2 linked regions of the Homo sapiens genome follow. The protein of the gene in region 1 interacts with the protein of each later gene in a pairwise test. Each region holds a gene or a part of one and is shown on either strand. Other genes may lie near its edges.

The links.
Region 2: the proteins of ZNF765 (region 1) and BPIFA1 interact in binary tests that used the Homo sapiens proteins (3 or more experiments, as listed by UniProt).

The regions. Positions count from the first base shown.
Region 1 is NC_000019.10:53,408,342-53,412,163, forward strand, and holds the end of ZNF765 (zinc finger protein 765), read left to right. Parts: coding exon 1-786; 3' UTR 787-3,668; downstream 3,669-3,822. UniProt on the Homo sapiens protein: May be involved in transcriptional regulation.
Region 2 is NC_000020.11:33,234,441-33,238,362, forward strand, and holds the start of BPIFA1 (BPI fold-containing family A member 1 precursor), read left to right. Parts: upstream 1-1,555; 5' UTR 1,556-1,610; intron 1,611-3,256; 5' UTR 3,257-3,271; coding exon 3,272-3,431; intron 3,432-3,614; coding exon 3,615-3,774; intron 3,775-3,922.

The sequences.
Region 1 (3,822 bases):
AGATGTCACACTGGTGAGAAACCTTACAAGTGTAATGAGTGTGGCAAGACCTTCAGTCAGACATATTACCTAACATGCCATCGTAGACTTCATACTGGAGAGAAACCTTACAAATGTGAAGAATGTGACAAAGCTTTCCATTTCAAATCAAAGCTTCAAATACATAGGAGAATTCATACTGGAGAGAAACCGTACAAGTGTAATGAGTGTGGCAAGACCTTTAGTCAGAAGTCGTACCTTACATGCCATCGTAGGCTTCATACTGGAGAGAAACCTTACAAGTGTAATGAGTGTGGCAAGACCTTTAGTCGGAAGTCACATTTTACATGCCATCATAGAGTTCATACTGGAGAGAAACCTTACAAGTGTAATGAGTGTAGCAAGACCTTTAGTCACAAGTCATCTCTTACATACCATCGTAGACTTCATACTGAAGAGAAACCTTACAAGTGTAATGAGTGTGGCAAGACCTTCAATCAGCAGTTAACCCTTAACATTTGTAGACTTCATAGTGGAGAGAAACCTTACAAATGTGAAGAATGTGACAAAGCCTACAGTTTCAAATCAAACCTTGAAATACATCAGAAAATTCATACTGAAGAGAATCCTTACAAGTGTAATGAGTGTGGCAAGACCTTCAGCCGGACGTCATCCCTTACATACCATCATAGACTTCATACTGGACAGAAACCTTACAAATGTGAAGATTGTGATGAAGCTTTCAGTTTCAAATCAAACCTTGAAAGACATAGGAGAATTTATACTGGAGAGAAACTACACGTGTAATGAGTGTGGTAAGACCTTCAATCAGGAGTTAACCCTTACATGCCATCGTAGGCTTCATAGTGGAGAGAAACCTTACAAATATGAAGAACTTGACAAAGCTTACAATTTCAAATCAAACCTTGAAATACATCAGAAAATTCGTACTGAAGAGAATCTTACAAGTGTAATGAGTGTGGCAAGACCTTGAGTCATACGTCATCTTTTGTGTACCATCATAAACTTCATAGTGGAGAGACCTTACAAATGTGAAGAATGTGAAGAAGCTTTCTGTTTCAAATCCAACCTTGAAAGACATAGGAGAATTCACACTGGTGAGAAACCTTACAGGTGTAATGAGTGTGGCAAGACCTTCAGCCAGACCTCATCCCTTACATGCCATTGTAGACTTCGTACTGGAGAGAAACCTTACAAATGTGAAGAATTTGAGTTTTCCATTTCAAATCAAACCTTGAAAGACAAAGGAGAATTCATACTGGAGAGAAACCATACAAGTGTAATGAGTGTGGCAAGACCTTTAGTCAGAACTCATACCTTACACGCCATCGTAGACTTCATACTGGAGGATACCTTACAAATGTAATGAGTGTGGCAAGACCTTTAGTCAGAACTCATACCTTACATGCCATCATAGACTTCATACTGGAGAGATACCTTAAAAGTGTAGTGAGTGTGGCAAGACCTTTAGTCTGAAGTCATACCTTACGCACCATCGTAGACTTCATACTGGAGAGGTACCTTACAAGGATAATGAGTGTAGAAAAACCTTTCATGGGCAGTCAGCATTTTACAAATGTAATGATTGTCACCAAGTCTTGAGTAATGCTACAACTATTGCAAATCATTGGAGAATCCATAATGAAGAGAGATCCTACAAGTGTGATAAATGCAGAATAAATGCAGAAAATTTTTCAGACATCCTTCATACCTTTGCAGTTCATGGGTGAAGTCGTATTAGAAACCTTACAAATGTGAAGAATGTGATGAAGCTTTCAGATTCAAATCAAACCTTGATAGTCATAGAATTCATACTAGAGAGAAACCTTAGCAGTGTAATGAACGTGGCAAGGTTTTAAATCAAAAAGCAAAGCTTGCACATCATCATAGAATTCATACTGGAGATAAACGTTACAAATGTGAAGCATGTGACAAAGTTTACAGTCGCAAATCAAGCCTCCAAAGACAGGAGAATTCATACTGGAGAGAAAGCTTACATATGTGAAGAATGTCACCAAGTTTTCAGTCACACTCAAACCTTGAAAGACACAGGAGAATTCCTACTGGAGAGATAGCATAAAAATGTAAGAGTTTGTGACAAGGCTTTCAGGCATAATTCGCACCTGGCACAACATCCTAGAATTCACATTGGAGAGAAAGCTTACAAGTATAATGAATGTGACAGGTCTTTAGTGGGCAGTCAACACTTGTTTACCATCAGGCAATCCATGGTGTAGGGAAACTTTACTTATGTAATGATTGTCACAAAGTCTTCAGTTACACTACAACCATTGCGAATCATTGGAGAATCCATAATGAAGAGAGATCATACTAGTTTAATAAATTTGGCAAATTTTTCAGACATTGTTCATAACTTGCAGTTCATCGGCGAACTCGTACTGGAGAGAAACCTTACAAATGTCATGATTGTGACAAGGTCTCAGTCAAGCTTCATTCTATGCAAAACATAGGAGAATTCATACAGGAGAGAAACCTCACAAGTGTGATGATTGCGGCAAAGCCTTTAATTCACATTCACACCTCACTAGACATCAGAGAATGCATACTGGACAGAAATCTTATAAATGTCATCAGTGTGCCAAAGTCTTCAGTCTGAGCTCACTCCTTGCAGGATATCAGAAAATTCATTTTGGAGATAGTTGTTCCAAATACAATGTGTATAGCAAACCATCAAGCATTAATTGACACTAGAGTCAGTTCAGCATTGACTTGAGTTTGACTTAACATTGAGTTGAAGCCTTAATTGACATTAAAGTGTTTATGTTAAGAGGACTGGGCCAGGCACAGTGGCTCACACCTGTAATCTGAGCGCTTTGGGAGGCCAGCACCGGTAGATCACTTGAGTTCAGGAGTTTGAGGTCAGCCTGGCCAACAGACGTGAGCCATTTTCCCAGCCTGTTTTTTGTTTCTTTAACAAAAACTGATAGGGATTTTTTTTTTTTTTTTTGAGATGGAGTTTCACTCTTGTTGCCCAGGCTGGACTGCAATGGAGCGATCCCAGCTCACTACAACCTCCGCCTCCCAGGTTCAAGCAATTCTCCTGCCTCAGCCTCCAGAGTAGCTAGGATTACAGGCATGAGCCACCACGCCCAGCTAATTTTGTATTTTTAGTAGAGATGGGGTTTCTCCATGTTGGTTAGGCTGGTCTTGAACTCCCAGCCTCAGATGATCCACCCACCTCGGCCTCCCAAAGTGCTGGGATTACAGGCGTGAGCCACTGCGCCCAGCCCCAGTGATAAGGATTTTTATGGGTACCGTGTTGAATCTAAATCACATTGGGTTATATAATCATTTAACAATATTAATTTTTCCAAACCATAAGTATGGGTTGTAGCTCTATGTTTCTAATCATTTTGATCAATGTTTGTAGATTTCAAGGTAAAAACCTCTGACCTTTTTACGTTTATTTCTAAGTATTTCTTACTTTAAGTTCTCCAGCCAATGGAAGTGTTTTAAAATTTTCTTTTAAAGTTGTTTGTTGTTAAAAGTATGGAAATTCAACTAATTTTTGGTGCTGATACTGTATTGTGCAAATCCACTGAATATGTTACTTAGTTCCAGTAGTATTTTGGTTGACTCTTTGTGATTTTCTGCACAGAAGATCATGTCGTCTACAAACAAATATAATTTTACTTCTTTCTTTCTGATTTCGATGAGTTTGATTTCTTCTGCTATTTAATTGCTCTAGCTAGGACAGCCAGTATTGATTGAATAGAAGGGGTGAGAGCACTCTTGCATCATGTGAGATCCTCCAGGAAAGGCATTCCATTTTCCCTACTTGATTATTCACTCATTGGTCAT
Region 2 (3,922 bases), on another chromosome or scaffold:
ATGCAGTCAGTGCTTAATAAAAGCACATTTATTCCTTCTCTCTCCACTTTTGCTTATAAGGTGTTAGGTTTTGCAGGGTAAGAGCTGCGCTCACTGGTCCAGGACCTTGGCCTTCCTGTGTCTTCACTTTTTCATCTGCTGAACAGACTCCAAGGGCCCCAGTGGTGGGGATAAATAAATGCCTGATTACTCCATTTAGGGAAAGGTAGAAGAAAGGGTAGGATAGAGACCAGGATGCCAAAGGATCCCTCAGGCCTGGGAACCTGGAAAGACTTTTCCAGGACCTAAAAGAGAAGCGGCGGGGCACTGTGGCTCACGCCTGTAATCCCAGCACTTTGGGAGGCTGAGATAGGTGGATCACCTGAGGTCAGGAGTTCGAGGACAGCCTGGCCAACATGGTGAAACCCCATCTCTACTAAAAATACAAAAACTTTGCCAGGCATGGTGGCGCTCGCCTGTAGTCCCAGCTGCTCAGGAGGCTGAGGCAGGAGAATCACTTGAACCCGGGAGGTGGAGGTTGTCATGAGCTGAGATCACACCACTGCACTCTAGCCTGGGCGACAGAGTAAGACTGTCTCAAAAAATAAAATAAAATAAAAATTAAGTGAAAATTTAAAAAATAAAAAGGGACGCATGAAAGTGTAAAGTTCACAGGTGGGGAAATCAAAATGGCCAGCAAGTGTTGGGAGGCACCTTCATCTCTCAGTGCAGTGATTCGGGGAAAGGACCTGAATGTGGATGTCTCACCCCAGGCAAGCACTGCATCTCTGGACAACTTGCCTCACACTCAGCCTCAGTTTCCCCCTTATAGAATAGGAGTACAGGGTTGTGAGGATTTTGTGAGATGCTGCCTGTGAACACCATGGCAGGCCAGGCATACAGCAGGAGCTCGGCCAGTGTCTGCTGTTGGCGTTGTTTTTGTTGTTTTCATTCTCCAGTCAGTTGCATTCTAACTCTGCTGCATCCTCTCTGGGTCTTTCAGCACTTGTCCCCACTGGATCTCAGTTTCCTCCTCTATAAAAGAGGAGGAGTCACCTCTCCCTCTCAGGGTTCTTGTGAGGACAGAGAGCTCCTGACGTGCAATAGGGGCTCTGAAAACAGGAGACCCTTGCCCTGGAATGGAGACGCACCCCAGATGTAGGATGCAGTGTGACTCTTTTGACATTTTAGGAGAAAGAATCCTCCAACTGGAGCAAAAAAATTAGAGCAGGAGAGGAAAGGGGCCAAGAGATGAGACTGAGGTCCCTTCCTGGGCTCTGTCTGGCTGCTCCTTTCAATGCTCCAAGCTACCTTGGGAGCGTGGGTCCCCAACCTTGGCTCCGCTCAGGAAACCATAAAGTCTTGAGTAACATCCCATCTCAGGTTTTTCTCTGTTTATCTTGTTGACCAAATAGCTTAACTGTCTCACCTGCTAATGTGATTGGCAATTATTTACTTTGGAGAGCCCTGAAAGACACTGTCAGATTGCAGAATTCTCAATTATCTAGAAACCCATCACCCAACACATGCTTCCTCGTCCCCATACTATAAAAGAGGCTGACTCCTCGGCAGAAGTGAGTGGGGGAGAGAGAGGAGACCAGGACAGCTGCTGAGACCTCTAAGAAGTCCAGGTAAGAGCCATCCATTCTGTGGCCCCTCTGCTACCCTTAACGGCAGGGATCTCAGGCTCCTGCCCTGTGGGGCAGTGAGTGATCTTGATCACTCACTGGGGGCTGTGCAAGAGAAACAGACCTGGCCAATGTCAGGGATGTGGGGATGGCCATTTGCTCTGCTGTCCTAAGAGACCAGTAACATTGATATAGAAATGGGCACTATTAATGCCGTAAATGAAAGCCTCTAAGGCATAAGTTTTAGCTTGAGGTTACCAATGTGGATACAGATGATCCAAAAACCTCCTAAAATTCTTCACCCAATTTTATACATTTTGATGCATTTTTTCTGAGACTAGGATCTTTAGCTTCCATTGGATTCATAAAGGGTCTGTTGCCCAAAAGAGATTCAGAGGCTGTGGTCAAAGTTACCTCCCTAAGAAGGGCACAACTGGCTCTTTGGACCAAAGACCTTTCATTTCCAGCCTTCCACCACAAGGATGGAGCTTTAGCTGAGTCAGCCAATAGATGGAATTTTGCACAAAGTCACCAGTTGTCTCCAAATTGTAGGTACTAGTGCTGGCTCTGGACAACTCTGCTGGCTGCCAAATAGACCTGTGAGAGGTCTGCAAGCCAAACCTCAGGGGTTGACCGGAATTCCATCCAGGGCAGCTTGAAGGAGAAGAGAAAGGTGTCAAAATGATAGAATGCATGTTTGTGTGTTGGGTGAGGGGAGGGTTGGGAGACCTGCCTTCAACCACAGCTCTGCCATCAATTTATTGTATGACCTTGGGAAAGTCACTACCCCTCTTTGGTCTCCTGGTTCTTCTCATGCAATGAAGACTTTGATGGCCCCAGGAATTCCCCAACAAAGGTCTACATGAGATGGTGGCTGTGGCCATGCGACCCCTGTATTGTGTGACTTTCAAGGGCATCCACCAACCATCATGGCCTGAGCTCAGGCCAAAGGACTGAACAGGGATGATCTAAAACAGTTCAATTCTTCAGCACTTGCACGTTTAACCCTTCTCATTTGCTTTGTCTGAAGAGCAGCAATGATTCAAACCATTGAAGCAAGCCCGATTGGAGAATAAATCTGATGGTTACTTAATTTAACCGAGGGTTCACCTGGCTCTAGCTTCTAATCCTCTGTCCACCGTGTACTTGTGACCTTGGGGAAAGTTACCCACACTCGGTAGTACACAAGTGGGTTTCAAGAAGGGATGGGAGTATATTTGAAACTCCCAACTGCAAACTCACTTGACCTCTGTGAGCCTTGGTTTCTCCTACTGGAAAATCAGACAAGTGAACTGTGGGCAAGATGGAGTGAGGTGAGGCTGGGATTCTTGGCAAGAAGGAAAAAAACCCTCTTCTTTGGAATGTGGTGGAGTGGGGCTGTCTCCTTTTTAGGCCCCTGATCAGTGGTCCTCACCTGTGCAATGCAGGTAACAGGTGCCCATGTCTTAGGGTTGTGATGAAGATGAAATTGTGTAAAGTGGTCAGCCTGTTGCCTGGCAAAGAGAAATTGTTCAGCAGTATTAGCTATTACTAGTGACCCCCTGGTGTTCTGGGGAGCAAACAACCCCACCCCCCAGGTGTCAGGGCAGGTGGTGGATAAATTCCTCTCTGATACCCATGCCATGTTGGACTTGTCATTCTGGCCACAGATACTAAGAGCAAAGATGTTTCAAACTGGGGGCCTCATTGTCTTCTACGGGCTGTTAGCCCAGACCATGGCCCAGTTTGGAGGCCTGCCCGTGCCCCTGGACCAGACCCTGCCCTTGAATGTGAATCCAGCCCTGCCCTTGAGTCCCACAGGTCTTGCAGGAAGCTTGACAAATGGTGAGTTTTCAGGGGTGTATGTGTGCATGTGTGTGTGTGTGTGTGTGTGTGTGTGTGTGTGTGTGTGTGTGTGTGTGTGTCCAACCCTGCAAAGTGGGGAGGGACAGGGCTGGATGGGGGAGGGGGCCTGAGGATCTGGAATTGTCAGATCTGACCCCCAGAGACCCTTACACCCATTTCCAGCCCTCAGCAATGGCCTGCTGTCTGGGGGCCTGTTGGGCATTCTGGAAAACCTTCCGCTCCTGGACATCCTGAAGCCTGGAGGAGGTACTTCTGGTGGCCTCCTTGGGGGACTGCTTGGAAAAGTGACGTCAGTGATTCCTGGCCTGAACAACATCATTGAGTGAGTTGTCCTAAAATAGAGCTTTGATCTCCACCAGGGAACCCCAGGTGAAGATCTGCCAGCCCCAGGCAGTGACCCTGAAGCAGCGACCCTGAAGCAGCGAGGGAGCGGCCTGAAGATGGAGCCAGGACTCAGTTCTGAGACCCAT